Linked DNA regions of Homo sapiens. The protein of the gene in region 6 interacts with the protein of the main gene of each other region in a biochemical or structural test. Each region holds a gene or a part of one and is shown on either strand. Other genes may lie near its edges. The genes, in order: DENND5A, PRKACA, NOS1AP, PTH1R, PLCB1, CARD11 and FRMPD1.

Evidence for each region.
Region 1: the proteins of CARD11 (region 6) and DENND5A interact in a test that uses a peptide from one of them, tested with the Homo sapiens proteins (one large-scale study listed by IntAct).
Region 2: the proteins of CARD11 (region 6) and PRKACA interact in a test that uses a peptide from one of them, tested with the Homo sapiens proteins (one large-scale study listed by IntAct).
Region 3: the proteins of CARD11 (region 6) and NOS1AP interact in a test that uses a peptide from one of them, tested with the Homo sapiens proteins (one large-scale study listed by IntAct).
Region 4: the proteins of CARD11 (region 6) and PTH1R interact in a test that uses a peptide from one of them, tested with the Homo sapiens proteins (one large-scale study listed by IntAct).
Region 5: the proteins of CARD11 (region 6) and PLCB1 interact in a test that uses a peptide from one of them, tested with the Homo sapiens proteins (one large-scale study listed by IntAct).
Region 7: the proteins of CARD11 (region 6) and FRMPD1 interact in a test that uses a peptide from one of them, tested with the Homo sapiens proteins (one large-scale study listed by IntAct).

The regions. Positions count from the first base shown.
Region 1 is NC_000011.10:9,254,755-9,259,185, reverse strand, and holds part of DENND5A (DENN domain-containing protein 5A), read left to right. Parts: intron 1-4,431.
Region 2 is NC_000019.10:14,093,554-14,097,984, reverse strand, and holds part of PRKACA (cAMP-dependent protein kinase catalytic subunit alpha), read left to right. Parts: intron 1-94; coding exon 95-221; intron 222-310; coding exon 311-406; intron 407-501; coding exon 502-624; intron 625-4,192; coding exon 4,193-4,357; intron 4,358-4,431.
Region 3 is NC_000001.11:162,359,663-162,364,093, reverse strand, and holds part of NOS1AP (carboxyl-terminal PDZ ligand of neuronal nitric oxide synthase protein), read right to left. Parts: intron 1,112-4,431; exon of another isoform or gene 1-1,111. UniProt on the Homo sapiens protein: Adapter protein involved in neuronal nitric-oxide (NO) synthesis regulation via its association with nNOS/NOS1. The complex formed with NOS1 and synapsins is necessary for specific NO and synapsin functions at a presynaptic level.
Region 4 is NC_000003.12:46,880,222-46,884,652, forward strand, and holds part of PTH1R (parathyroid hormone/parathyroid hormone-related peptide receptor precursor), read left to right. Parts: intron 1-840; coding exon of another isoform or gene 841-897; intron 898-1,773; exon of another isoform or gene 1,774-1,961; intron 1,962-2,027; exon of another isoform or gene 2,028-2,243; intron 2,244-3,290; 5' UTR 3,291-3,338; coding exon 3,339-3,413; intron 3,414-4,431.
Region 5 is NC_000020.11:8,729,823-8,734,253, forward strand, and holds part of PLCB1 (1-phosphatidylinositol 4,5-bisphosphate phosphodiesterase beta-1), read left to right. Parts: intron 1-3,415; coding exon 3,416-3,570; intron 3,571-4,431.
Region 6 is NC_000007.14:3,033,558-3,037,988, forward strand, and holds part of CARD11 (caspase recruitment domain-containing protein 11), read right to left. Parts: intron 1-4,431. UniProt on the Homo sapiens protein: Adapter protein that plays a key role in adaptive immune response by transducing the activation of NF-kappa-B downstream of T-cell receptor (TCR) and B-cell receptor (BCR) engagement.
Region 7 is NC_000009.12:37,741,209-37,745,639, forward strand, and holds part of FRMPD1 (FERM and PDZ domain-containing protein 1), read left to right. Parts: exon of another isoform or gene 1-144; intron 145-3,180; coding exon 3,181-4,431. UniProt on the Homo sapiens protein: Stabilizes membrane-bound GPSM1, and thereby promotes its interaction with GNAI1.

The DNA.
Region 1 (4,431 bases), on a different chromosome or scaffold from region 6:
TGGGCTCAAGCGATTCTCCTGCCTCAGCCTCTCAAGTAGCTGGGATTACAGGCATGTGCCACCATGCCCGGCTAATTTTGTATTTTTAGTAGAGATGGGGTTTCACCATGTTGGTCAGGCTGGTCTTGAACTCCTGACCTCAGTTGATCTGCCCGCCTCGGCCTCCCAAAGTCCTGGGATTACAGGTGTGAGCCACTGCGCCCAGCCTAATACCCTGTTTTTATAAAAAATAAAAATAATTAAGAAAGAGAAAAAGGTGACTGTCTAGGAAAGCTAGAGGACTAGTCAAATCATACTCCTCCTTGACTGTATTGAGCAGTGAAATTCGAACTTCAAAATTATCGAATGTTAACATGAAAGCACCCTTTGCAATTATATAACCTTCTGATTTTACAGATGAGGAAACTGAGGCCCTGAGAAAGTGGGAGAATATTTGTCTCCCTTGCCACATTTCATTCTTTTCTGCTACTTGAGTGATATTTTGCATGCTTTGCAGACCTTTGATGAGTGGTGGATGCGGGGGGAACAAGCAAAAAATTTGTCTGGCAGGGCAGGAACAGACGTTATGGTAGTTTTTTTCTAGTCCAGGTTTCTGTTTCATGGTAAGAAAGAATACTGTGTGTGCAATAGCAAGACTTGGAACCAACTCAAATGTCCATCAGTAAGAGACTGGATAAAGAAGATGGCACATACACATCATGGAATACTATGCAGCCATAAAAAAGGATGAGTTCATGTCCTTTGCAGGGACATGGATGAAGCTGGAAACCGTCATTCTCAGCAAACTATCACAAGAACAGAAAACGGAACACCACATGTTCTCACTCATAAGTGGGAGTTGAACAATGAGAACACATGGATGTAGGGAGGGGAACATCACACACTGGGGCCTGTTGGGGGGGTGGGGGACTAGGGGAGGGATAACATTAGGAGAAATACCTAATGTAGGTGACTGGTTGACAGGTGCAGCAAACCACCATGCCATGCCATGTGTATACCTATGTAACAAAACTGTATGTTCTGCACATGTACCCCAGAACTTAAAGTATAATTTAAAAAGGAAAAAGAAAGAATACTGTGTGTACTGTGTGTAGACCGGGTACGGTGGCTCATGCTTGTAATCCCAGCACTTTGGGAGGTTGAGGTGGGTGGATCACTTGAGGTCAGGAGTTTGAGACCAGCCTGGCCAACATGGTGAAACCCTGTCTCTACTAAAGATACAAAAATTAGCCGGGCCTGGTGGCACACACCTATAATCCCAGCTACTCGGGAGGCTGAGGCGAGAGAATCGCTTGAATCTGGGAGGCGGAGGCTGCAGTGAGCCAAGATGGCGTCACTGCACTCTGGCCTGGGCAACAAAGTGAGACCTTGTCTCAAAAAAAAAAAAAGAATACTGTGTGTGTTGGCTGGGCGCGGTGGCTCACGCCTGTAATCCCAGCACTTTGGGAGGCCGGGGTGGGCGGATCACAAGGTCAGGAGATCGAGACTATCCTGGCTAACACGGTGAAACCCTGTCTCTACTAAAAATTCAAAAAAATTAGCCGGGTGCGATGGCGGGCACCTGTAGTCCCAGCTACTCAGGAGGCTGAGGCAGGAGAATGGCGTGAACCTGGGAGGCGGAGCTTGCAGTGAGCCGAGATCGAGCCAGTGCACTCCAGCCTGGGCAACAGTGTGAGACTCCTTCTCAAAAAAAAAAAAAAAAAGAATACTGTGTGTGATTATCATTAAGGATATCTTTTTTTTTTTTTTTTTTAAGAGACAGAGTCTGTCTCTGTTGCCCAGGCTGGAGTGCAGTGGCACAATCATGACTCACTGCAGCCTCGACCTCCCAGGCCCGTAGCTTTATTGCTTTATCTTTTTTTATAATTTCATATTTAAAGAAGCATTGAGGGCTAGACATGGTTGCTCACGCCTATAATCCCAGCACTTTGGGAGGCTGAGGCAGGTGGATCACTTGAGACCAGCCTGGCCAACACGATGAAACCCCGTCTCTACTAAAAATACAAAAATTAGCCGGGCGTGGTGGTGGGTGCCTATAATCCCAGCTACTCAGGAGGCTGACACAGGAGAATCGCTTGAAATGGGAGGCAGAGGTTGCAGTGAGCCGAGATGGCGCCACTGCACTCCAGCCTGAGTGACTTGGTCTCAGAAAAAAGAAAAAGAAGCATTGACATGAATAGAACAAAGAACTCCAGTATATCTCTTAACCAGATTCACCGATTGTTAACATTTTGCCCCATTTGCTTTATCATTTATGTGTGTGTCCATATATAAACAATTTTATTGAGATATAATTCGTATACCATACAGTTCACTTATTTCAGTGATTTTTAATTTATTTTTACAATTAGTTTTACAATCACACTACAATCCATTTTGAAATGTATTAATCACTCTCCCCTGAAAACCTGTACCCATTAGCAGTTACTCATCATTTTCTCCCAACCCTCTAACCCTGAACCCTAGGCAACCACTCATCTACTTTCTATCTCTATAGATTTGCCTGTTTTTGACATTTCATATAAATGGAGTAATATGTGTGGTCTCTTGTTACTGGCTTCTTTCACTTAGCATAATGTTTTCAAGGTTCACTCATGTTGTAGCATGTATCAGTTTGTCATTCCTGTTTATGCCAGAAAAATATGCCATGGTATGAATATACAACATTTTATTTGTTTATCCATTAGTGGAAGGACATTGGATTGTTTTCTTCTTTTTTTTTTCTGAGACAGAGTTTCATTCTTGTTGCTCAGGCTGGAGTGCAATGGCGCAATCTCGGCTCACTGCAACCTCCGCCTCCCAGGTTCAAGTGATTCTCCTGCCTCAGCCTCCTGAGTAGCTGGGATTACAGGCATGTACCACCACGCCTAGCTAATTTTTGTATTTTTAGTAGAGACGGGGTTTCACCACGTTGGCCAGGCTGGTCTTGAACTCCTGACTTCATGATCCACCCACCTTGGCCTCCTAAAGTGCTGGGATTACAGGCACAAGCCACCGTGCCCGGCCTTCAGTTTTTGATTGTTTTGAATAATGCTATGAACATTTGTGTACACTTCTTTTTTTGTGTGTAGGCCTATGTTTTCATTTCTCTTTGCTGAATACTTAGGAATGAAATTACTGGGTCATATAGTAACTGTGTTTAACCTTTTTTTTTTTTTTTGAGATGGAGTTTCGCCGTGTTGCTCACGCTGGGGTGCAATGGCGCGATCTTGGCTTACTGCAACCACTGCCTCCCGGGTTCAGGCCATTCTCCTTCCTCAGCCTCTTGAGTAGCTGGGATTACAGGTACCCGTTACCAAGCCTGGATTTTTTTTTTTTTTTTAGACGGAGTCTCACTCTGTCGCCCAGGCTGGAGTGCAGTGGCACAATCTTGGCTCACTGCAACCTCTGCCTCCCGGGTTCAAGCAATTATCCTGCCTTGGCCTCCCAAGTAGCTGGGACTACAGGTGTGCACCACTATGCCCAGCTAATTTTTGTATTTTGTACTAGAGACAGAGTTTCACCATATTAGACAGGCTGGTCTCGAACTCCTGACTTCATGATCCACCTGCCTCTGCCTTCCAAAGTGCTGGGATTACAGGCGAGAGCCACTGCGCCAGTCAATTTTTGTATTTTTAGTAGAAACGGGGTTTTACCATGTTGGCCAGGCTGGTCTCGAACTCCTGACCTCAGGTCATTCACCTGCCTCGACCTCCCAAAGTGCTGAGATTACAGGTAAGAGCCACCGCACCTGGCTGCCCGACTAATTTTTAATTTTTTTGTAGAGACGAGGTCTCACCATCTTGCCCAGGCAGGTCTTAAACAACCTGAAAAATGATACTCCCGACTTGGCCTCCCAAAGTGCTGGGATTACAGGCGTGAGCCACCGCGCCCGGCCGTGTTTAACCTTTTGAGAGACTGCCTGCCAGTCTGTTTTCCAAAACAGCTGCACTAGTGTACATTTCCAATAGCAGTGTATGAGAATTCCACTTTATTCATATCCTTACCAATACTTATCTATTGGTTTATAGCCATCTTAGTGGCTGTAAGTGGTATCTCATGGTTTTAATTTGCATATCCTAGAAGACAAAGATTTTTATTTTTATTATTTTATTTTATTTTATTTATTATTTTTTGAGACAGAGTCTTGTTTTGTGGCCCAGGCTGGAGTGCAGTAGCACGATCTTGGCTCACTGCAACCTCTGCCTCCTGGGTTCAAGCGATTCTCATGCCTCAGCCTCCCGAGTAGCTGGGATTACATGCATCTGCCATCACGCCCAGCTAATTTTTGTATTTTTAGTAGAGATGGGGTTTCACCATGTTGCCCAGGCTGGTCTCGAACTCTTGACCTCATGATCCACCCTCCTTGGCCTCTTAAAGGGCTGGGATTACAGGTGTGAACCACCACACCTTGCCGACTGAGACTTTTAAATAAGACTTCTTATTTAAAAG
Region 2 (4,431 bases), on a different chromosome or scaffold from region 6:
GGTGTCTTCCTCTGGGGTAGGCTCTGCAGGGCCACCTGCTGGACCATTTTGGGGCATGACCACTGACGTTCACCTCCCCATTTGTCCCCATCAGTGAGCCCCATGCCCGTTTCTACGCGGCCCAGATCGTCCTGACCTTTGAGTATCTGCACTCGCTGGATCTCATCTACAGGGACCTGAAGCCGGAGAATCTGCTCATTGACCAGCAGGGCTACATTCAGGTGCCCACCAGGCCGGGCGAGGGGCAGCCCTGGGGAAGCCGTGGCCTGGACCCTTCCTCCCTGCCAACTGCCTGTTCTTGTGCCCACAGGTGACAGACTTCGGTTTCGCCAAGCGCGTGAAGGGCCGCACTTGGACCTTGTGCGGCACCCCTGAGTACCTGGCCCCTGAGATTATCCTGAGCAAAGTAGGAGCCTCCCCAGCCCTCCCCTTCCCCTGAGGCCGGCTCTGCTCTCCTGCTCTCGCCTCCTCCTCACCCTGTGCCCCCCCATCTTGCTCCAGGGCTACAACAAGGCCGTGGACTGGTGGGCCCTGGGGGTTCTTATCTATGAAATGGCCGCTGGCTACCCGCCCTTCTTCGCAGACCAGCCCATCCAGATCTATGAGAAGATCGTCTCTGGGAAGGTGAGGTCCGGATGTGGGGACACAGCCCTGGAAGAAACAGACCGTTCCCTGCTCACCCATCCTATTCCCTGGGGAGCCCTGCTTGTTGTCAGAATAATCTAGAAGTTCCTTAAGTCAGGCCAGGTGGTGAAGCTGGACGCGCCGGCCACACTGAGGCCAACACCTCAAGCCCCCTTGCTGTCCAGCCCCAACCCCGCGGTTCCAGAATCCCATGGGCTTCCAAAATCCCGAGCCTCACGGGAACATCTTGGCCACAGAACACAAACCGCCCTGCCAGACGACCCTCCTTTTCGCTCCTCATCCCAGTTAGTGTGAGTTTTCGCAAATTCCAAGGCAGAAAAACGAATGTATTTGGTTCCTGTTCCCAGGTGCTGTCCATAGCCTCACCCAGGATTGCCCTCACTTAGCATTTATAGCCCATGCTTCCTCTCCCAAACCCAGACTTGCCTAACTCTGAGGGTTCAGATGAGGGGTGGTGAAGCCATCTCAGCTCACATCTATGACAGGTGCAAAGTGCCCACCATCCACCAGGCCCCAGAATCCCCATCAGTCACACCCTGAGATAGTGGCACCCTCTGTAGGAGAGGTGAGGAAACAGGCTGGGAAAAGGGATGTGTCTTGGCCAAGATCACACTTTGGTGAGTAGGTAATCACCGTAGGCAATCATTGTAGGCACTGATGGCCGGAGAGAGGTTGGGGACCCCACCTCTGCCCTCAGCTCAACCACCTTGCTGGGAAGACCCGACCATCCCCCGACTTGGTCCAGCATCTCCTACACAGGAGCTTTTGGTTGGCCCGGAGTCATGACACTGTGGTGGGAGCACCCTCAGGCTCAGCCTGGGCCCCAGTCCCAGCTCTGCCACCGACTGGCTTTGAAACTTTGGGGCTGGGTACAATGGCTCACACCTGTAATGCCAGCACCTTGGGAAGTGGAGGCTTGAGGCCAGGAGTTCCAGACCAGCCTGGGCAACATAGCCAGACCCCATCTCTAAAAAAAAAAAAAAAAAAACAAACTGGCCGGGCGCGGTGGCTTACACCTGTAATCCCAGCACTGTGGGAAGCCAAGGCGGGCAGATCACCTGAGGTCGGGAGTTCGAGACCAGCCTGACTAACATGGTGAAACTCCGTCTCTACTAAAAACACACACAAAAAAAATTAGCTGGGTATAGTGGTGGGCGCCTGTAATCCCAGCTACTTGGGAGGCTGAGGCAGGAGAATCACTTGAACCCAGGAGGCGGAGGTTGCAGTGAGCCAAGATCACACCATTGTACTCCAGCCTGGGCAACAGGGCAGGACTCTGTCTCAAAAAAAAAAAAAAAAAAAAAAAACTAAAAATTAGCTGGGCGTGATGGTGCACCCCTGTGTTCCCAGCTCATCGGGAGGGTGAGGCAGGAGGATCGCTTGAGCCCAGAAGTGAGCTGTGAGCTGTGATTGCATCACTGCAGTCTAGCCTGGGTCACAGAGCCAGACCCTGTCTTTTAAAAAAATTCAGGCAAGTGGGGTGCCCCAGCTGGACACATAGCATCACTAAAAGAGAAAGATGAAGGCCAGGCGCGGTGGCTCACACCTATAATCCCAGCATTTTGGGAGGCCAAGGCAGGTGGATCACGAGGTCAGGAGTTCAAGACCAGCCTGGCTAACATGGTGAAACCCTGTCTCTACTAAAAATACAAAAATTAGCTGGGCGTGGTGGCGGGTGCCTGTAATCCCAGCTACTCGGGAGGCTGAGGCAGAGAACTGCTTGAACCCGGGAGACAGAGGTTGTAGTGAGCCGAGATTGCGCCACTGCACTTCAGCCTGGGTGACAGAGCAAGACTCTGTCTCAAAAAAAGGGAAAGATGAGGCATCTGCCACCGGACCAAAAGAAACTGCCAAGAAAATGGCCCAGAGTTGGCCGGGTGTGGTGGCTCACGCCTGTAATCCCAGCACTTTGGGAGGCCGAGGCGGGCGGATCACGAGGTCAGGAGTTTAAGACCAGCCTGACCAACATGGTGAAACCCCGTCTCTACTAAAAATACAAAAATTAGCCGGATATGGTGGCACACACCTGTAATCCCAGCTACTCAGGAGTCTGAGGCAGGAGAATCACTTGAAACCGGGAGGCAGAGGTTGCAGTGAGCTGAGATTGTGCCACTGCACTCCAGCCTGGGCAACAGAGCAAGACTCCATCTCAAAAAAAAAAAAGAAAAAAAGAAAAAAAAATGTCCCAGAGTGGGAAAAAAAAGAAAGAAAAAAACACAGAAGATCCCACAGGAGAAGATGCACATGACTCCCTTCTTTGTAGCATTTTCTAGTTCCCCCGCACCGTCAGTGGTATTATCTCCCTCGTGCAGCCCTGGCATATCTGCCCCACATCTGAGAGGCATGCGCAGGCCCAGAGAGGTTAAGGGCCATGGCCAAGGTCACACAGCGTGTAAGAGGCACAGCAGGAACAAGAAGTCGTTTCTTGCAACTATAACTCCAGTGATGACTTGCATACAAGGCGTGGGCTCAGAGGGTTTGGGGAAAACTTTCAAGAAGAGTTGAGCTGGGCTTTAAAGAACGGAAGAGCCTTAGCTATGCAGAAAGAGAGGAGAGAAAAAGTTTGTCATAAGCAAGAATATTTCAGAAGTCTCCAGACCCCAGCAGAGATGCCTTAAGCAGCAGCAGCAGCAGCTGAGAATGCAAGTTCTAGAGTCCAGTAGACCTGAGATGGAATTGCCCCATCACACACCTCAATGTGACCTAGGAAGAGCTGTTTAACCCAAGCCTCAGTTTCCCCTTCTCTGAAATGGAAATCATCATAGCACTTGCCTTAGAGCAATGGTTCTTAAAAGGGACCCCTTTCCAGCAGCACCATTGCTGGGGAATTTGTTAGAAATGCAGATTCTTGGGCCAGGCACGGTGGCTCACACCTGTAATCCCAACACTTTGGGAGGCCAAGGCAGGTGGATCACCTAAGGTCAAGAGTTCAAGACCAGCCTGACCAATATGGTGAAACCCCGTCTCTACTAAAAATACAAAAATTAGCCAGGTGTCTTGGCGTGAGCCTGTAATCCCAGCTACTCAGGAGGCTGAGACAGGAGAATTCCTTGAACCCAGGAGGCGGAGGTTGCAGTGAGCCCAGATCGCACCACTGCACTCCAGCCTGGGCTACAGAGTGAGGCTATTTTTTTTTTTTTTTTTTTTTTTTTTTCAAAAAAAGAAATGCAGATTCTTGCTGGGTGTGGTGGCTCACGCCTATAATCCTAGCACTTTGGGAGGCCAAAGCAGGAGGATCGCTTGAGCCTAGAAGTTCAAGACCAGCCTGGGCAACGTAGTGAGACCCTGTCTCTACAAAAACTTCTTAAAATAACTAACTCTTGAATTTTTAAAGTTTTTAAAGAAATGCAGATTCTCAGGCCACAGTATCAGACTTCCTAAATTGGAAACTGTAGGGTAGGCTCAAGGAGCTGTTTTACAAGATGCTGGCAGGCACTCTGCTTTGGAGGCCCACACCCAGTAGGACCGTTGGATGGAGAAAGAAGCATCATGGGCTTCCCAAGTTCCAGACCAGCTTCCCACCCTGTCCTTGTACCCCTTCCTCCAGGTGCGCTTCCCTTCCCACTTCAGCTCTGACTTGAAGGACCTGCTGCGGAACCTCCTGCAGGTAGATCTCACCAAGCGCTTTGGGAACCTCAAGAATGGGGTCAACGATATCAAGAACCACAAGTGGTTTGCCACAACTGACTGGATTGCCATCTACCAGAGGAAGGTGGGCCTCCCCTCCTTAAGCCTGCTGAGGGTTTGGGAGCAGGCCAAGAGTCAGGGAGGACAGCCAATAGAGAA
Region 3 (4,431 bases), on a different chromosome or scaffold from region 6:
GCAGTGCTACCTCACAGTTGGCCACCCTTGGCCAAGTGACTTGCTGGCCCAGGGTGTGCCCCTCCCAGCAACCAGCACTCAGAGAATTACACTTGTGGATACCGTGGCTGCCTCCCTCTTGCCCAGATTGGAGGCCCTGACCTTGCCGTTGACCCTATTTCTGATTGAGTGGAGCCACAGGGGCATAATGCCTAAGGAATTTAAACTAAATCTGTCCTCCATAAAGCTGCTAAGGACAGAACTGATATTTTGGTCAAGAAGTCAGACTCATTTTTTTGTCTCATATTAATTGAGAGAAGATCTGGGGAGGGGTGAGAACAGGTGTGATACAGTGAAATACATGTTTGGTCTTCATCCCTGTTTCCTGACATATAGCTCCCCAAACCCTTGAGATCTCCAGAGTGGTAAGAGTGTTTTTTGTATGCTTATTAGATGATTAGTGGTTGGGGAACCCCTGGAAGCTTCGGGATGGGGGCTGCTCACAGGACAGACCAAGGTATGATTAGAGGATAGGATTTTTCAGTCCCACGCCCCAACCTCCAGGAGATGAGGGGCTAAAAGTTAAACTAATCACCAGTGGCCAATGATGTAATCAATCATGCCTACATAATAAAGCCTCCATTAAAAACTCAAAAGGACTGGGTGTGGGGAGCTGCCGGGCAGCTGAACATTTAGAGGTTCCTGGAGGGTGGTGCACGTTGGGAGGGCATGGGAGCTCTGCCACCCTTCCCACAGACCCTGCCCTATGCATCTCTTCCATCTGGTGTTCATTGGTATCCCTTATAATATCCTTTAAAATAAACCAGTAAATGTAGGTGTTTTCCTGAGTTCTGTCAGTTGCTCTAGCAAATCAGTTGAGTCCAAGGAGAGGGTAGTGGGAACACCAATTTATAGCCACTTGGTCAGAGGTGTAGGTGACAAACTATTACTTGTGATTGGTGTCTGAAATGGGGGAAAGTCTTGTGGGATTGAGCCCTCAAACTGTGGGATCTGATGCTGTTTCCAGGTAGATAGTATCAGAATCAAACTGAGTTAGAGGACACTGTGTGCCCTCTGCAGAACTGCTTGCTTGCTTGGTGTGTGGGAAAAAGCCCCATACATTTGGTCATAGAAGTATGTTGTGACAGTATAGCAGGAAGAAACTGAGTTTGTTTCTTCCTATATCCACTCAACAGGGAAAGAAATGTCAATAATATTGTAATCTGGATGTCAGATGGTGGGTGGCTATTAAGGTTTTCTCCTCTTTGGAAAGGGAGGCATGGAGAAATTTCAGCTGGGGGTCCCCCAAATCTATTTGGTTCTAAGGAACAGGACAACTGCTATGGGAAGCCCACAGATAAGCCTCAGAGAAGGGTAAGCTTAATCTTGCACTTATGAGTACCGTTACTTATCCCAACAAAGAGTGGCATCGAAAGGAACCTACTGAGCAAATAAAATTACTAAATTATTCATCTTCCATTTTCTTTGGAACCAAACCAACCAGAGAGAAATGTGGAACAAAGTCTTTCAGCAGATATAAACAAAGAAAGTAGAGAATCCTGCATACCTCTAACTGGCACTTATTGAGGGCTCTCTGCACACATACTGCAGAGTCAGTTTCTTTTCTTTTCTTTTCTTTCTTTCTTTTTTCTTCTTTTTTTTTTTTTTTTGAGACTCACTCTGTCACCCAGGCTGGAGTGCAGTGGAATGATCTCAGCTCACTGCAACCTCTCCCTCCTGGGTTCAAGCGATTCTCCTGCCTCATCCTCCCAAACAGCTGGAATTACTGGCGCCCGCCACCACACCTAGCTAATTTTTGTATTTTTAGTAGAGACGGGGTTTCCCCATGTTGGCCGGGCTGGTCTCAAACTCCTGACCTCAAGTGATCCACCTGCCTCGGCCTCCCAAAGTGCTGGGACTACAGGTGTGAGCCACCATGCCCAGCCCAGAGTCAGTTTCCTGCTTTCCAGTCTGAACATCCCAACAGGACAGGCCATTTGAATGCACCAGACCAGGAGCTGGAGTGCTTGTCTGTTGGGTACTCCCTAGGCAGTTGTAGACAACTCACTTCTCTCTGGACCTCAGTTTCTCCATCTGTCAACCGAGAGGACTGGCTTGAGGCTGAGACAGTTGATAATTCTACATCCAGGTTGACATTGTGGTCAGTACTGGAGGCAATTTGTTAATGGCTCATTGAAGAAAACTCTCAGTTCCCCATTGTGAAGTCAGAATTAGAATTGAGGGTGAAGGAAAAGTCCCCTCTTACAGAAGCCAGGAAAAAAATTGAAAGCTTTTTTTGCAGGTACCCAAGTTCAATGGTGGAGTACCAGCAATACCTAGAAGAAGACCTTTGACTCAAATGCTTCCCATCGCAGATCCATTGGCACCAAGTGCCATGAGAAAATGCTCCTTGTACCAGATTAAATAAGAGTTTTACCTCTGTAAACCCAGTTACACTATTTCAGGTATTTTCAAGTCCTGTGAATATGTGAGCACCCACTGCTGCTACTGCCTGAGCCAGCACTAATGAGCCCTCTGCTTCTGCAGCTGTCAAAAGTGGTACTGGGCATAAGGCTCAAACCTCAAGCTGTGGCAGGCTGTGCTGCAGGAGAACCCAAACCAGGCCATACTGAGACAAAATAGCCTGGACTTCTTTTAACTTTGAGGTGCAGCATTTTATAACTATGTAGGCTCGAACTTGAAGCACTGAAACGAGGCAGCGTTACGTGAAACCTTGGTTTGGGCAGTCTGCTACAGCCCTCTGTGCTTTGTTTCCCCATTCATACAACAGGGGCAGAGAGCACCACCTCCTCCCCACCAGATGGGATTTTTTTTTTGTATTTAGCATGCTTTTCTTTCAAAGAATTAAGCCCCTTTTGTAAAAGTAGACCATATTTCTTTCTGGAAAGGTACAAATTAGTGTCTCCTTTGCAGAACTGTGTTGTCTTTGGCAATGAATGTTGTACTTACATACTAAGTCAGTGATGTGGCACAGAGTGATGTGACACTACGGCCACGTCCCGAGTGCCAGGGCTCAGATGTCCAGCTCTGCACTCTGGCCTCATCATGACACACAAAAGTTCAGCCCTGCACCCTCCAGCTCTACACTGCTTTCCCAAACTCTGAAACCCACCCTCAACCCACCCAGCCACACCAGACCATTGGCGCCCTCACTCTCCAGCTTACTTGCCTGGACTCCAGCTCCTCCATCAGAAGTGAGGGCAGGGCCAGGCTGAAGTTAGGGAGTAGCAGGCACATGGAAATGGCAGTGGAGAGAACCAGAGCAATTTGCCCCACCACACACTGGACACAGAAGCAGAGGCAGGCGCCGCTGTCTCAGCATGCACATGGCAGGGACTTGGGCAGTGCATGCCAGCGTGCTGGGGACTGGGAGAAGCCACAGGGACATATGCTAAATAGAGGGCCTGGGGTGGGGATGCGGAGTTTTGTTAGCACTGTTCCTCTAACTACAGCATACATGATTGCGAAGCATAAATAACCAATTCCTTGTTCCTGAACAAACAGAAGTGGCAGCAGGTAGAGGAGAAATCTTTAAATAGCAATACTGAACTGTACTAACACTTTCCTCAGGAAAAAGGCTGGGAATTGGCAAACTGTGAATAGACCTGGCCTACTTAACACTTGCCAATCAGCCACAGTGCCCAGATCAGTTCTGAGACTATGTCGGCCCAGCCCATGGCCATGCAGGTGCCAGCTACATCCCAGCTTCGCTTCGAGGCTTAGCTATACTCTCATTCACACCCTTGAACTTCTGGTCCACCTAAAAGCAGGAAGCTAGTGCAGCCAGGCAAGCCTCATGCTGGGTCGGAAGAGCGGTCAGAGGGACTTGGGTATTCACTACTTACCCACTGAGGTCTAACCCGGAAATACTTAAGAGTTGGTTGAATACCACCTTTGCCCATATACCTTTAAGGTCAGGGCGGGCCCCTTTGAGACCAGCTCAGAACCAATTTAGGGTGAGGCTGGGAGAGGTCTTGCGGTCTTAGACCAAATCAGGACACTGTGAAGGAAACCTAAGCCTGGTCCCCATGGCAACAGCAGAACTAGACTAGTCTGTGGGAAGAAATGGGGGTGGTGGGGGGGGGACGACATAAATAGTGCAACAAGTGACATCAAGGGTACACTTGTCTGCAAGAAACTGTCTTTATCCTTAGATTTTTATCCAGGAACAACATAGGAGGATTTGGATGCTCTCCGAGAGAAGGAAACTATTCCCACCTGAAAGGCTGAGGTCATAGTTTTACTCACTGGAATTCTGGGGACTGCTGGTAGTTTAATAAAGACAGACAGAAGCCTTGCAGTTTGGTGGCAATAGAGTCTGACAGAACAAGTAAGAGCTGACCTCGTGCTGGAAACTGAAATCAGCCCCCCCCCGCGTAGAGAAACCAAGCTTGCTATACTTGGTCTATTTCAAATGTGTGAAAGATGCCA
Region 4 (4,431 bases), on a different chromosome or scaffold from region 6:
GGAGGGGAGTGTCCTTTACACCAGGCAGAAGAGTATGATCCTGGCAGAGGAAGCAGCAAGGACAAAGGCAGGAGAGTGGATGTGTGAAGAAGACCAGGAGTCTAGCAGACAGTTCCTGTTAGGGAGAGTCATTTTTGGAGGAAACTGTCTCAAATAGCACAGCCCTTGAACACCAGAAAAAGAAATGAGGGCAGTGGGCACAGAGAAGGGAGGCAGCCATAGAAATGCATGGGGAGGGCCAAGGCTGGTGGTTCATACCTGTAATCCCAGCACTTTGGGAGGCTGAGGCAGGTGGATCACTTGAGGTCAGGGGTTCGTGACCAGCCTGGTCAACATGGTGAAACCCCGTCTCTACCAAGAAATGCAAAAATTAGCCAGGTTGGTGGTACACACCTGTAGTCCCAGCTACTTGGGAGAATCACTTGAGCCTGGGAAGCGGAGGTTGCAGTGAGCAGAGATCATGCCACTGGACTCCAGCCTGGGTGACAAAGTGAGACTTTGTCTTGAAGAAGAAGAAGAAGGAGAAGGAGAAGAAAGAAGAAGAAAGTAGCAGCAGAAGAAATACATGGGGAATGCACCTGGGAGTGCAGTCTGGAAGCTGGATGGGCTTGAGCCAGCAGAAGGGTGGCTGCAGCTGGATCCTAGGCCTTAGGACTTGGGCTTGACAGATTTGCACTGAGGGTTGGAGGGCAGGTTTGCAGGCTCCGAGGAGCTCAATATCCACAGGCTGAGTCTTGAGAGCCCCTGGAGCCCATGGGCCAGGATGCCCACCCTCGTGGAAACTAAACAGTAAAGTTAACATTGCCCTTGAATCAGCTGGCCAACCTCTCCATTTTGCAGATGAGGAAACTGAGGTCCAGACAGCCGAAGAGTGGTAGTGTCCAGGACACACAACTGGTAAGCGGGCAAGCACAGGCTGTTGCTTAGCCCAGACTCATTTCCCAGGGCCTCATGCATTCGCTTCCTCCGCGATCCTTAAAGCCCTGCGCTCCAGGCATCCCCAGCCCCTCCCTCTGCCTCAGTTTCCCCACTTGGTACCGGGAGGTGGTAGGTTTGGGGTCGAAGGGCCCCTCCTCTTAGAGCTCCAGCGTGCCCTCCCCAGCCAAACACAGAAATCCCGCCCCGTTCAGCCCCAACCCCCGCGGACTCCTCCTTGCCTTCCCCTAAGTCGAGGGTCCCAGGCGGCCCGGTCCGAGCCGGCCGATAGCTTTTGGGAGTGGGGGTGGGAACGGGGGAGGGAGGTGAAGCCTGAGAGTGGGTGTCTGGATTGAGCCCCAGGTCTGGCAGCCTCGAGCCTCCGGGGTTGGGGCTGGGCAAGCTGGAGAGGCCCGGCCAGCAGCTGAATGGGTCGAGACTCGGAGACCCGGACCCGAAGAGACGCTGGGCAGGGAGGGAGCGGGATGTGTGGCTGCAGACCTGGGCGGGGGTCGGGGCTGGCCTAGGGCCGAGAGGAACGACAGGCCTGGGATGGGACTGAGGGCAGGGGACGAGGCGAGGGTGGGGCTGGACGTGGGGGAGGGCGGCAGCAGCCAAGCCGGGCTCGGGGCTGGCAGCCGAGCGGCCTCCCCAGGGACCCCGACCCGGCCCGAACGGGAGCCCAGTGGACTGACAGCGTCGCGGCCGGGGGCGCGCGGGGGTACCGGGCAGCCTCCTCAGGGGATTCGCCCATGATGAAAGAGGGCTCGCTTCTCGGCTCAGGGTCTCTATTCGCCAGCGGGGGCCGGATGATCAAGGGAAAAAAAATTTAAAAGCCCGTGCTTTCCAGAAGAGAATGAAGCGGCGGCGGCGTCCCGGGTTCCCTGCTCGGGTCTCGATGTTACAGCTGCCCCCGCCCCGTCTCCCCAGCACTCACATCCCGCCGCCGTAAGACTCCGGGCCTCGGCCTCTAGCGCAATGTCCCGGGGCGGGGGGCGGAAGGCTCCTCTCGGCCTCTCCACACTCCCGCGTCGGCGGCTGCGGAGGGGGTGGGGGCGGGAGAGGCCCGGGAGGGCGCGGGGGAGGGAAGAGGCGCCCGGCCGGGGAGAAGGGGAGCGGCAGACGCCGAGGCGAGGGATGCGCGCGGCGGGCGGTGGCTCCGAGCGGCGGCCGGGCGGGGGGCGCTGGAGGCCAGGCCGGCCAGCGGGGGGTATCCCGAGAGCTCCATGAAGTCCCCCCGGGGCCGCGGACGGGGCGCTGGCTTGGGGAGGCTGTCGGGGGGGCCCCGACATCCATGGCAAGGCGGGGGCCGCGGCGGCGCGCTCGGAGTAAGTCGGGGCTGGGGACCCGCGCCGAGGGGAAGTGGCCGGAGTCGGGGAGGAGCGACTCCGGGCCTGGCCGGAGCAGCCAGGCTGCTCTGTCTCGGTGTCAGTCGGCGGCGCCTCCTCGGAACCCGGGGGAGTCGCCAGCCCCGCGCCGCTCGGCTCGGTGGCTTTTTTGGAAACTTGCAAATGTTTTCGTAGAGAGAAAAGGGGGAGGGAGGGAGCGAGGGAGTGACCGAAACGGAGCTTGGGGCCGCTGGAAGAACTGAGGCCAAGGCCGGGGGAGCTAGAGACGGACTGACAGACAGGCAGACCGACAGAGCGTCGGGGCCGCTGCGCGCCCGAGCCGCACAGGCGCAAGCGGGGCTCTGGCCAAGGATGGGGAAGGGGTGCGGGAGGCGGCTGCCGAGGGTCTGGGATCTCAGGAGGCCGAACGGCCGGGGGCTGGCGGCCGGAACACCTAAGGGCTCAGTGTGGCTGCAAAGTTGAGATCGCACCCCCTAACTGCACGCCCCGCGCGGCTCAGAACGCGCCCCCTGCCCGGCCCTGACTCCCTACGCCGAAAGTCGCGGAGCTAAAAATAACAGTCCTGCGCGCCCCCCGCAGACCGCGACCCCGACCCCTCCCCCGCCCCCTCCCCCCACTGGGCGTGGGGCGAAGCCACAGCTCCCATTTCCCCAAAAGAAAAAAAAAGAAAGAAAGAAAGAAAGAAAGAAAGAAAAGGCGGCGCGGGAGGGGGGCGGGGGGCGGGCCGGGGGCGGGGGGCCCGGCCATATGGATGTGATTTCTTCGCTCCGAGGCAGACGGGCCGCTCCGCAGCGCTCGGCGCCCGCCCGCCGCCCGCCCGGCCTCCGGCTCTCCCTCCCTCCCTCCTGTCCCTCCCTCCCTCCCTCCTTTGCGCTGCTCGCTCGCTCGCTCGCTCGCTCGCCCTCAGCGCATGGGCCCCGCGCCGGGCCCCGGGGCCTCGGGCCGCCGGGACGCCGGGGTCCCATAGGCCGGGGCGTGGGCGGGGCGGCCAGCCTGACGCAGCTCTGCACCCCCTACCACCACCAGGGCCGGCGGCGGCGGCTGCCCCGAGGGACGCGGCCCTAGGCGGTGGCGATGGGGACCGCCCGGATCGCACCCGGCCTGGCGCTCCTGCTCTGCTGCCCCGTGCTCAGCTCCGCGTACGCGCTGGTGAGTCCCCCGCCGCCAACACTCCGGGACAGGCTGCGGGCTTACCCTAGGGTCCGCGGGATAGGTCTAAGGCACGCAGTCTTGAGTTCCCCCAGTAGTTCGAACTTTGGGTGAGAGTCCCCTCTGATCCAGGATCCTGGGTGCCTGCTGTCTCTGGGATGTCTGGACTGTGGGTTCCAGCTGCCTGAAGCCTCCCTATTTCTGAAGCCTCGTTTGGGGTCCCAAATCTGGCAATTTGTGGTTGAGTTTTCACCATCCTCTGCTTCTGTGAGCACCATGGCTGTTTCTCCCTGGAAGATGACAGTGTGACCCAACAGAAGGCTGGGCTTTGGCCCTGCTGCGTACTCCCACAGACTTTGCTTTGGGGACCTCTGTTTTCTGCAAGTTTTGTTGCAGTCCCGGACACAGGGAATGTAGGTCTGAGGTCAGAATCATCCAGGCAGGGGGTAGGATTTAGGGGCCCCCTCCAGCCCTCACACACACACATGCACACGTCTGGCTTCACCCAGGGTAGAAGCTGTTTCCCCAAGGAGGTGGGTGTGGTGTGGCATGGAGAAGGGATGGAGTTCCCTGAAGGAGACTGACCTCACAGTGCACCCCTGTAGGAGAAGCACAGCATATCCTGTGGGGAAGTGAGGAGACCCCTGGAAAGACTGTCACTCCCTGAGAGTGACCTAAAAGCAGAATGGTAGGGAAGGCTAGAGGGAGAGGAGAGACAGAGACAAAGCCGGGTGGGGAGGAGAGATCCCCCCAGCTGGAGGGGTGGACAGACTAAGAACAGCAAAAAAAATAGGGAGACAGGCAAAGGCAGAAAGCTGGAGACACAGAGTGGGCAGCACCTCCTCCTCCTGGGCCAGGGTCTGGGGCCCACTTGCTGGGAAGGGGGCTGTCCCAGCCCCTCAGTCCTATTCCACAGCAACCCCATCCCCTGGGACGAGCCCGTTCCTGGGGAGGCTGTCTGCCTGTGCGCCTAACTTCAAAGCCTCTTCTCCCTGCTCCCCAGTGGGGGTATCTGCCT
Region 5 (4,431 bases), on a different chromosome or scaffold from region 6:
TGTCTGTAAAAAATGTTGTGCTACATTACTCCGCTGTCAGCAATGTTTAATATGACGTGGCCTCTCATTTGCGATCTTGGTTAAGTATTATCGTTAAATAATAATAATAATTAAACCAGACAAAAATGTGTTATTTCACTGTTATTTTAAATTCATTTCTTGAATCATTATTAAGGTTGAACTTTTTAAAATATGTTTCTTGGTTTTTGTATTTCTGCTTTTATGAATTACATATTCAGGACTATCGTCAATTTTCTTGTTGATTTATAACAGCACTTTTTATTTAAAGGGTATATTGTCTTTTGTGAAACAGAGACAATTCAGTGGATCAGGTCAGGCTGATTAATGTTTAATTAAAAGTTCTTGGTTTACTTGTATGATTACAGCCTCCTCACCCCAGGATGAAAGCCTTGTGCTCCCATTTTTCTCATGGTTTCTTTTTTATTTAACCTTTTCAACCATCAAAATTTAATTTTGGTCCATAGTCTCAGTGAGATCAATCCTTTTTTTTCATCCTAAACAATCATCCCACTGAACTGGAATTACACGTTAATAGATACAGCCTTTTTCATTGTTGTTGTTAATTCAGACCCATTTTTTCACTTTGTATCTTTTCCATTAATAAATTTGTCTGCCTTCCTGGATGCAATAACTCACTGTTTTTACTGTATTTTATAATATGGATTAATACCTGGAAGTGGTGATTCTCCTTTACTACTATTAATTTTCAATTCCTTTTTTGCCATTGCCAGTGGAATTCTTATTTCAAATAAACTTAATTTAACTGTATTATGTTTTCCTTGACTACTAAAAAAAAACTATTTTTAAAATCATATTAACTTTATAAATTTATCTGACAAAAACTGACACCTTTTTAATTTTTAGTTTTTCTGTCACAGGAAAAATGCTTTTCTCTTTACTTTAAAATTTTTTGTATTAAGTCCTCAGCAAAATCACTTGTCTTCATTAGAGGTCTAGTTTTCTTAGACTGAATCTTTCTTTTTATTTATATTATATTTTTAACAGATTGTTTCTGGATATTTATATTTGTATATTTGTTTATTTTATAAATGATTGTATTTTACAAATGATCATCTTTCTAAACTCTTATAATAGCCTATTTTTTGCAGTACATTCCGTTGGAATTTTTAGACACACAAAGACAGTAATTTAATCATATCTCATTTCTCCACCTGCCTTATTTATTGCTTTGGCCTTACCGTTCTCAGGTATTAAATGAGGGTTCCGAGTGGGCATCTTTCTTTTTTATTCAGTAGGAAGTTCAACATTATGCCTTTTATTAAGTATCTATCAAGCTCTAAGCCACGATTAAGAGTAATTTGCTAGATATTTATGGCTTTTTAAAATCAATTAATTTATTTTTATTGATACATAATAGCTGTACAAACGTTTGCAGTACGTATGATAATTTAATACATTTATATAATCAAATCAGAGTAATTGGGATATCCATCACCTGAAATATTTATCTTTACATTAGAAACAATCGAATTGCTGTCTTCTAGCTATTTTTAAATGTACAAACTATTAATGTTAACTATAGTCACCTCCTTGTCTATCAAACACCAGGTCTTAACGTCTTCTATCTAAGTGAAGAGTGGGCATCTTTCTCTTCATCCTGATCCTAATATAAGTTTCACTGTTGTGATATCATCAAGTCAGATATTGGCTGTGACTTTGAGTCAGATATTCTTTAACATACTAAAGGACACGGGTCCTATTTGACTAATGTTTTAGAAGTTGGTATTGAATGTTATTAAATGTCTCTTGGACATCCATTGGGATGATCATATGTTCATTTTTCAGACATAAATGTGATAAGTTATCTTAATAGATCTCATTTCCTAATATATAATTATCCTTTTGTTCCCAAAATAGGCTCTACTTATTTGTTGTGTATTATTTTTAGAACATATGACTTGCTAATGTAATTTTTAGGCTTTTGAAGCTAATTTTTTCAAGTGTCATAAATTCATTATTGTTTTGAAATTTTGTCCAATTTTGACATCATAGTTATGTTTATAAAATAATAGTTTAATAAGAGAAAATTTCACTGATTTTTTTCTGCTCTAAAAATGATTTGTTAAATGAAACTTTAGAATAATTCTGCCATCACCTCTTTATTATGCACATAGAGATGAGTCATGACACAGATAATCTGGAACTGTTGACAACTTCCCAGATTCTTTACAACTTTAATATGTATTCTTTCACTCTATCAGTTGCAATATGTGTGAACGTTCATCTGATGCACTGAGTCTGAGGAAAATTTTGACCAGTAACCTTTGTCCACTGGAAAAGAGTCTATGTAGAATTAGATGTTAATTGTAAGTAATCACAGAAGTGCAAATTATAAAAAAGAAATTTTTTGTACAAATTAAAAAGCAGGAAAAGGAATAATAGAATCCTCTTTTAATGAGGCATGGAGAAGTCCATTCTCAAAAACATGGCTTAGTAGTATAAGCTGGTTTAAGCTTTCTGAAGGGCATTTTAGCAAGGCATCAAAGAAAAATTTTCCAATGAGGACATCATTTGTCCCAGGAATTCCTCTCATAAGAAAATCACTGATCATGGCTTCAAAGATTTCACCACAATGATGTTTATCAAAACATTATAAGGGTGAAAAATTAGAAAAAACATAAATGTGCCCAAAAGGGGAATGGTTAAATACATTATATTCTAATATATTGTATTAGATATTATATTCTAATATATTGTATTAGATATTATATTCTAATATATTGTATTAGATAGTGTATCATATTAGAAATTAGATATTAGAATTAGAAATTAGAAATTAGATATTAGATATTGTATCATAATATTCTAATATATGCTTTATATATTAGAATGATATATTTAATATATCATTCTAATATATCTAATATATATTAGAATGATATATTTAATACATTAGATATTAGATATATTAGAATAATATAAATAATATATCTAATATATGTTAGATATTAGATATTTTGTATATACTATATTTATATATAATTATATATTATATATTAGATATATTATATTATATTAATATTTAACATATATTATACAAATATATTATTCTAATATATTTAATCAAAGGAATTTGAGACAGCTGTTATAATTAAGGCAGATACATATTAAATGAAATCAATATACTGTATGTCAACAATATATTTGAAGTGGAAAAGCAGACTGCACACCCACCAGTTGGCAGTGATTATTTCTGGACTTGGGGATTAGAGGTAATTTTTTTCTTATCTGTGTTTCCTGCATTTCTACAATGACTCTCTTCCAAGGGAATACAGTCACAAAAGTGGACTGGGATCAACTTTACTTTACAATCTTACTTTCTTACCCCAAGTATAGATAAACTCACAATAAGGCTTGTGTTTTTGATACTCAGACCTGGCTATGCAAATAAATATGGGGATGTATGAATACAACGGGAAGAGTGGCTACAGATTGAAGCCAGAGTTCATGAGGAGGCCTGACAAGCATTTTGATCCATTTACTGAAGGCATCGTAGATGGGATAGTGGCAAACACTTTGTCTGTTAAGGTAGGTATACCCCATCACAAAATTGTTCCTAACAATAGTGTTGAATTTATCTACATTGCATAAAGAAGTGGCTTAGTCATTAAAAATTTAGTAACTAGGAAAGATTCTACTTTCTTCCTACATTTTTTTTCTCTAAAGATCAAATACACATTAAAAGTTTTCGTAAGGGGTCCGTGTGTTCTCATTGTTCAATTCCCATCTATGAATGCACACGGGAAGGGGAACATCACACTCTGGGGACTGTTGTGGGGTGGGGGGAGCGGGGAGGGATAGCATTAGGAGATACACCTAATGCTAAATGACGAGTTAATGGGTGCAGCACACCAGCATGGCACATGTATACATATGTAACTAACCTGCACATTGTGCGCATGTACCCTAAAACTTAAAGTATAATAATAATAATAATAATAATAATAATAATAATAATAATAAAAGTTTTGGTAGGGTCGGGCGCAGTGACTCACGCCTGTAATCCCAGCACTTTGGGAGGCCGAGGCAGGTGGATCACGAGGTCAGGAGATCGAGACCATCCTGGCTAACACGGTGAAACCCCGTCTCTACTAAAAAATACAAAAAAAAACAATTAGCCGGGCGTGGTGGCGGGCGCCTGTAGTGCCAGCTACTCAAGAGGCTGAGACAGGAGAATGGCGTGAACCTGGGAGGTGGAGCTTGCAGAGAGCCCAGATCGCGCCACTGCACTCCAGCCTGGGCGACAGAGCGAGAGAGCGAGACTCTGTCTCAAAAAAAAAAAAAAAAAAAAAAAAAGTTTTCATAGGCCACATGAATAAGATAAAGCGACTGAACTTTATTCTTAATGATAAAAATCTGACTCTAAATCAATAAAATGAGTTGGAGAGA
Region 6 (4,431 bases):
AAGTGGGTGAAATTGCAGTAGATCAGTCGCACTTGGATAGGAACGGTCCCCGTAGAGAGGGAATACAGAATGGAAGATGCAGCAGAGAGAGAAGACAGTTGCTCGAGAAGCGTCTTTGATTGGAGAGAGGTGGGCTCTGGTGCCTGTGCAGAGTGGGCCTTGGCAGGTGGCAGGATCATCATCTCAGGCACAGGGCAGGGCGAAGTGCCAGGCGCAGAGGCAGGAGGCCCTAGGCAGGCGGAAGGGGGAAGTAGGGCCACCAGTGCAGTGGGAGGAGGGCCTCCGAGGCCCATTAGTCTGACTGCCACAAGACATAAGGTTGATCTTTAAAATATATTTTAAAATTACAGCTGGGCACGGTGGCTCATGCCTGTCATCCTAGCACTTTGGGAGGCTGAGGCGGGCGGATCCCCTGAGGTCAGGGGTTCGAGACCAGCCTGGCCAACATGGTGAAACCCTATCTCTACTAAAAATACAAAATTAGCTGGGCATGGTGGCACACACCTGTTATTCCAGCTACTCAGCAGGCTGAGGCAGGAGAATTGCCTGAACCCGCGAGGTGGAGGTTGCAGCGAGTTGAGATCACACTACTGCACTCCAGCCTGGGCAACAAGAGTGAGACTCTGTGTCAAAGAAAATAGAACTGTATATATATAATTACTAAATTATATATATAAATTATATAAATAGATATTATACAAATATAATTATACATATTATATACAATTATATATAAATATATAATTATACATATAATTACATATATAATTTTTTAAAAATAATATGTATATATGTACAAATTACTTAAGAAAGATACAGGGCTGGGCACGGTGGCTCACATCTGTAATCCCAGAACTTTGGGAGGCTGAGGCTGGAGGATAGTTTGAGTCTAGGAGTTCGAGACCAGCCTGGGCAACATAGCAAGACCCTCATCTCTACAAAAAATAAAAAAATTAGCCGGTCATGGTGTCACATGCCTGTAGTCGCAGCTACTTGGGAGGCTGAGGTGACAGGATTGCTTGAACCCAGGAGGCTGAGGCTGCAGTGAGCTATGATGGCACCATTGCACTCCAGCCTGGGCAACAGAGCAAGACAAAATTACAGCAAACTTCCACATAAAATGAGTGAGGAGACACGGTGACCCGTCCCCGGCGCACAGACGGCCTTCTGCTTGTACCGGAGCTGGGTCCTTTCCCCACTAGGTCATGCTCTTCGCCAGTCTAAGACCTCCCCGGGCTCAGAACACTCGGAACAGGGCCCGGTAAAAGGCCGTCCTTTAAGAAGGAGGAGAAACATTTTTCAAAGATCGAGAACTCTCCTACGAAGAGCCAAGAGCCTCTGCGTGCCTCAGGGACTCAAACGGGGATCACGGTGCCTGTTCACTGGCAAACAGGGACCCCCATGTCAGCTCGCAGAGGCTCTCCGCAGGGTATCAAGCTGCTTCTTGAAACGCGTCTGAGAATTGAAGTCAGGAGTCTTGGAAGGCGGTGTGAGGTATCGTTATTATTCTGCTGAACGTTTCCCCCGGAACCAACGATACCTGAATCCCTTTAAAAATAGGCCATTTCTTCTTAGAAGATTTCCACGAATCACATAATCCTTACGCAGAGGCAGGCAACGAAGCACTAATGTCAATAACGTTACAGTTTTACTTCACAGCAGCATTTATCCACTGACATAGCAATTTACTAAACCGCAGAAAACGCCGGCACAGGGCCTCTGCTTGCCCTTGGATTTTTTTTTTTTTTTTTTTTTTTTTTTGAGATGGAGTCTCACTCTGTCACCCAGGCTGGAGTGCAGCGGCGCGATCTCGGCTCACTGCAGCCTCCGCCTCCCGGGTTCACGCCACTCTCCTGCCTCAGCCTCCCGAGTAGCTGGGACTACAGGTGCCCACCACCACGCCTGGCTAATTTTTTTGTATTTTTAGTAGAGAGAGGGTTTCACCGTGTTAGCCAGGATGGTCTCGATCTCCTGACCTCTTGATCCGCCTGCCTCGGCCTCCCAAAGTGGTGGGATTACAGGCGTGAGCCACCGCGCCCAGCCCTCCTTGGATTTTTTAAATTTCAGAGACAAGGTCTCCTTCTGTCGCCCAGGCTGGAGTGCAGTGGTGCAATCACAGCTCACTGCAGCCTCTACCTCCTGAGCTCAAGTGATCCTCCCACCTCAGCCTCCTGAGGAGCTAGGCCCACAGGCATGACCACTACACCAGCTAACTTTTACATTTTTTGTAGAGATGGGGTCTTACTATGTTGCCCAGGCTGGTCTCAAACAACTAGGCTCAAGCCATCCTCCTGCCTCAGCCTCCCAAAGTGCTGGGATGATAGACATGAGCCACTGTGCCCAGGCTGCTTCCAGATTTTTTTTTTTAAAGGGCCATCACCACCAAGACACGTATAAGAATGTTCACAGTGGTTTCATCATAACAGCCCCAAACTGCAAGCAACAGAAACATTTATCAACGGTCAGGTGGATAAGTAAATTGTGGTAATTTTTTTTTTTTTTTTTTTGAGACAGGTCTCACTCTGTCACCCAGGCTGGAGTGCAGTGGTGCGATCTTGGCTCACTGCAACCTCTGCTTTCTTGGGCTCAAGCAATTCTCCAGCCTCAGCCTCCCGAGTAGCTGGGATTATAGGCGCAAGCCACCAATGCTTGGCTAATTTTTGAATTTTTGTAGAGACGGTTACATCCTGTTGCCCAGGCTGGTCTTGAACTCCTGAGCTCAAAGCAATCTGCCTGCCTTGGCCTCCCAAAGTGCTGGGATTACAGGCATGAGACACAGCGCCTGCCCCTATTGCGGTAAATTTATGCCATGAAATACTGTGTAGCAATGAAAAAGAAACATTGAATGTGACTCCGTCCACGTCAAGTTCAAGGACAGGGATGGTGATAGAGGTTGGAAGGGTCCTCCCTTAGGGGACAGGGGAGGGGTAACGACTGGGAGGGGATATGGCACTTCCCCAGAACCTAGAAAGGACCCAAATCTTGATCTGGGTGATTGGCTCCAGAAGGGCATGTGAAGGCCCGTCAAGCTGTTTGTACGCTTAAGACTGTACTGTGTGTGTGTTATACCTTAATTTTTAAAAATTATTATTATTATTATTACTGATGGGCAATCAGTTTTACCTTTCTTTTTTATTTTATTTTTAGAGATGGGGTCTTGTTCTACTGCCCAGGCTGGAGTACAGTAGTGCAATCCTAGCTCACTGCAGCCTCAAACTCCTGGGCTCAAGTGATCCTCCCATCTCAGCCTCTGGAGGAGCTGGGACTACTACAGGTGTGTGTCACCATGCCTGGCTAATTTTTTAAAGTTTTTTTGTAGAGGTGGGATCTCACTATGTTGCCCAGGCTGGTCTCGAACTCCTAGGCTGAAGTGATCCTTCCACCTGGGCTTCCCAAAGTGTTGGGATCACAGGTGAGAGGTGCCACGCCTGGCCTATCAAACTTTTTGATGTTTGCCAGTCTGACAGGTGGAAAACGCTATGTCCCTGTTGTATTACTTCACATGGATTTAATTACAAACGAAGCATGCTGACTGACCTGCTCATATTCCGTGTGTTTGTACCCTTTCACCATTTTTTCCATTGGTTGAATTCTCTAATTTTGGGGTCTGGACACTCCCACTGAGGGTCCAGTCCTGTGCCATCCACTGTGCCGAAGGTGGCCATACTCACTCCCAACTGCAGCCGCCTCCACCCCGCAAGGACAGAGTTGCTAGCTTCGACAGAGACCCTCTGGCTCACAAGGCCTAAAATATTTACTATTTGGAGCTTTCGAGAAAAAGTGTGCCAGTTCCCATGTCTCATTGGTTTACAAGAGTTCTTAGTAAATTAAGGAAATAGCTCTTTGCCACATATACTCTGTTTTGCATTTAGCTCATCTCTCTCTGTTCTCCCTCCTGGCCTCTGAATAAGCAAGTCAGAAGTAAAACTTAAAAGCAGAAGCCTGCAGAACCCCTTGACACATTTGGTGCGTTTGGAAACACTTTGGTCTATGCTAATCTAGGGGTGGTATCATTATTATTATTAATTTGTGATAGAGTCTTGCTCTGTTGGCCAGGCTGGAGTACAGTGGCACAATCGTGGCTCACTGCAACCTCTACTTCCCGGGTTCAAGTGATTCTCCCGCCTCAGCTTCCCGAGTAGCTGGGATTACAGGTGCTCACCCCCATGCCTGGCTAATTTTTGTACTTTTAGTAGAGACGGGGTTTTGCCATATCTCAAACTCCTGACCTCAGATGATCTGCCCGCCTCGGCCTCCCAAAGTGCTGGGATTACAGGTGTGACCCACTGTGCCCAGCTAGGGGTGGTAATTTTATACCCATTTTACACGTGCAGCAATTGAGGCTCAAAATCATCATGTGACTTTGTTGGGGTCACCGAGATTGCAGGCAGTGGAGCCGGAATGGGCACCTTGTCTGTCAGGCTCTAAGTC
Region 7 (4,431 bases), on a different chromosome or scaffold from region 6:
AGTGCCCGGCAGAGCGAAGTGGCTATGTCATCACTGATCCTGAGGCTGCATTAAAGGAGGCCTTGAAGCAAGAAGAACCAGACAGACAGGCCGTCTGTGGCCCTGCAAGGCCTTCTGGGGTCCAAGGGACCCTGACATCAGAAGGTAGGGGATCTGGTGGCTGTGTTTCTATCAGGTTCCTCATACATTCCTCCACCGAGAGTGTGGAGGGTCTTTCCAAGCAGAACTGAGATCCTGGCAGGACACACACACACACACACACACACACACACACACACACACACTGCATTCTGAAGGAAACATATTGGAAAAGAGCACATGGATGTTGAAGGTGACCTGCCAGGAGCTGGGAGAGCTGCAGCCCTTGTTCCTGTCTCGGCACTTTCCTGCTGCTCTCTGATCCTCTATTCCCAGACCTCCTGTGCTCTCCCACTGTTCTGGAGAGAAAGGCCAGCTCCTCTGGGAGCCCCATCAGGCCCTTTGAGGCCCTCTGTGACATGGCCTCTGCCTGTCTCTCTCCCTCCTCCTGCATTCCTGCCATACAGACCTCCTTGCCACTTTCTACAAGTGCCTGTTTTTTCCCCCTCCTCCAGCCTTTGCACATGCTGCTCTTTCTGACCGAAACACTCCTCCCCAGATCGTGGCTGATGGTGCCCATCCGTCTATCAGATTCCGGTTGGAATTCACTTCCTCAGAGAACATTTCCCAGGCTTCCCAGGCCAGGGCAAGTCTCCCCATCTCTGTCACATGTTCTTGCATTACCTGGGGCTCTCCCTGTCTGGCACCTCGCACAGCCTGTAAATTACATATTTACTTGTATGATTCTGTGTTGATGTTTCTCTCCATCACTAGACCGAGAACTCCTTTGAGCGTTAGAACTGTGTGTTTCTCACTGTGTCCCCAGCACACAGCGTCTAGCAATTGTTGTTAAATGAATGAATGAAGTCTCCACCATCTACACTGAGTTCAATTGACTGTACCTCTAAGGAAAGGAGAAACCATGGCCAGACTCCTTACTGCTCCCCAAAGTACCCAGACAACCACTTTCCATGCCCCAGCCTTGCCCTGCAGGGCCAGCCATTGTGCCGGGGGGCAGGATGGAAGTGTGGCAGAAACCATCAGTCAGGGCCCTTTTATGGGAGTCTAGTCAGGAACATATGGGGTTCATACCAGACACTGTTTTGTTTTTGTTTTTGTTTTTTATAGGGAGCCAGTGTAGTGCTGAGAAAAGAGCCAGAACTAGGATTCCTCAGCCTGGGTTCTGATTTGGCCCCTGACTGACTATTGGAGCCTCTTTGTCTTTGGGACTTAGAAACTCCTTGGTCGGTGGCTGTCAGTAGCCTAGGGCAGTCAAATGTGACTGGGCATCAGAATCACCTGAGGGACCTTGTTTAAAAACTATAGATTTGGCCGGGCGCAGTGGTTCACACTTGTAATCCCAGCACTTTGGGAGGCAGAAGCAGGCAGATCACCTGAGGTTGGGAGTTTGAGACTAGCCTGGCCAACATGGCAAAACCCCATCTTTACTAAAAGTACAAAAATTAGCCAGGCATGGTGGCGTGCACCTGTAATCCCAGCTACCCAGGAGGCTGAGGTAGGAGAATCACTGGAACCTGGGAGGCAGAGGCTGCAGTGAGCCGAGATTGCACCACTGAACTCTAGCCTGGCCAACAGAGCAAGATTCTGTCTCAAAAAACAAAAAACAAAAAAACCTAAACCTTATAGATCCCTAGGCCCTAGCCTCAGAGATTCTGACTCCTCAGAGATTGTGGGGAGCAGCCTAGGACTTGATAAGGTTTCTAATAGCATACAGCCAGGTTAGAAATGACTGGTCTGACTACCCAAGCTCTCTGATTCTCAAGTGCTAGGCTCTGATCCTAATTCCTTCTGGCTGATTCCCAAGGGTTCTTTACAATAGTGCCTCTCCTCCCAGAAAGATCCATCCTGGGATGCACAAAACTCGATGCCTGTGACAGAGTTGTGGCCCCTTTACATTCAGACATGAAATGGCAATAACGAGCAGCTTCCTTTTAGTGAATACCTAATGAGGCAGAGGCCTTGTGCTGGGTGCTTTATAAAAATGCACTAATTCCTTTAACCTGCACGGCAGCACTGAATGGCACCATTGGCACTAAAAGACTTGGGTTAACATCAGCACAAAGAAAAAGTGTTAGGAAGTAAGATTGTTTATAGAATTGCTGGCAAGCCTGAAGACCTGGGTTCAGAAATAGACAGCAACCAGGCTAAGAGTCTAGTCACAGGATTCCCTACCTGTATTATCAAGCTATTGTGGTTGGAAAGAATGGCTCTGCTTTTTTTTTTTTTTTTTTTTTTTTTTTTTTTTTTTTTTTAATGTCTTTGGGTTTGGAATTCTGGAGAATTTGTAGCTGATTGGCTGGCGTGGACAGAGCATCTTCGTGAACAGTTCCAGCAGACTCTAACCATTGGGGAGATGTCATTCCCTAAACAGAAGTTGAGATGCTGTGACCAAAAGATAATTAAATGGATCTTAGGCATCCAAAAATTTAATAATGTCTATCACAGCTGGGTGCAGTGGCTCAATCCTATAATCCAAGCACCTTGGGAGGCTGAGGTGGGAGGATTGCTTGAACTCAGGAGTTCAAGGCTGCTGTGAGCCGTCACACCACTGCACTATAGCCTGGGGGACAGAGTGAGACCCTGTCTCAAAAAAAAAGAAAAAAAAAAGTCGGCCAGGCGCGGTGGCTCATGCCTGTAATCCCAGGCCTAGGTAGGCGGATCATTTGAGGTCAGGAGTTCGAGACCACCCTGACCAATATGGTGAAACCCCATCTCTACTAAAAATACAAAAATTAGCTGGGCATGGTGGCAGATGCCTGTAATCTCAGCTACTCCGGGGGGATGAGGCAGGAGAATTGCTTGAACCTGGGAGGCAGAGGTTGCAGTGAGCCGAGATCACGCCACTGCACTCCAGCCTGGGTGACAGAAAGAGACTCCGTCTCAAAAAAATAAAAAAAAATCTGTCACAATTATTATCCCCATCTTTCAGATGAGGAAGTTGAGGAGATCAGGATTGAACTTGCTCAAGGTTACACAGCCTAGCCAGAATTTAAACCCAGGAAAGCCCAAGGCCTGAGCCCAAGCTCTATTAACCTCTTTTTTTTGTGCTTTTTAATGTATTTTTTCTTTCCTGACTCCCAGGGCCCAGAGATGTTTCTACTGCAGAACCCAGTGCCACAAGCTTGCAGAATAAGGCCAGCACTTCTAGCCCTGAGAACAGCCTGCCTTGTGGGCCAGATGGAAGACAGCCAAGCAGGAGGGGAGGGGTGAAGAAATATGCCAAGACCCTGAGGAAAAGAAGGTCTTTCCTACAGACCGACTACACCTCTCAGGTCTCATTTCCCCTGGTGCCATCAGCCTCCCTGGAGAGTGTAGACGACGTGTGCTACTATGACAGGGAGCCCTACCTGGCCCTTGGTGCACCCTCCCCAACTGTGTCCTCTCTGCAGGACATGCAGGGTGAGCCTGGCCTTCTGGAGACCAAGGCCTTGGGGCTGCTGGCTCCTCTGAGGGAGACCAAGAGCACAAACCCAGCCTCCAGGGTCATGGAGATGGAGCCCGAGACCATGGAAACCAAATCAGTCATCGACTCTCGAGTGTCTTCTATTTCTGCCATTCGCTTCCGGATTGACCCCAACAATAAAGAGAATTCTGGTGTTGTCCCTGCTGCCAGCTCCTCAGCAAGCACTCCTCACTGTTCTAACCCAGGTTCATCTGGCCCAGATACTGCTCAGGCAAGGCCTTCCCAAATCTTACCTCTATCTCAAGACCTGGATGGGATTGCCCCCAAAGAACCAACCATAGAGCATGGAGACAGCTCCTTCTCCCTCTCCAGTGGTGACCCTAACCCAGACAGAGCCTGCCTGGCCAGCAACCCAGGACTAAATAATGTCTCTCAAGGAGACACACTAGAGCTCCAGTTGGAGCCCCATGTCCAGTTGGAAATGGGATTGGAATCTTTTTGTACAAATCATATACAAGAAACTGCCCCCAAATACACAGAGCCTTTGTTGTCTCCTAGAGATGAGCCTAGAAGTGATGAATGTGGAATAAATCCAGGAGAGAAGATAGCTTCTATCCCTACAAAGGAAGAGCCACAAGGACAACTATCTCTGGAAAGAGACAGAGAAGTTACAAACAAAAATGGCACCAACGTATTTCAGGAGGAGTCTAGGAAGGATTCAGGTGACTCCCCGGGTGATGTGTCAAATAATGTTTCACAGACTCTTGATATTAGCTCTCCAGCTGGTAAAATAGTAACCTCCCTTTCTTTAGATGCTCCTGTAACAGGGACCGAGCAGATCCCACCACATCCCCCTAGAGACCCTCAAGGACAGAGCAGAGAACCCCCAGGGCAAGGCTGCCAGGCTCAAGAACAAAAACTATTCGTAG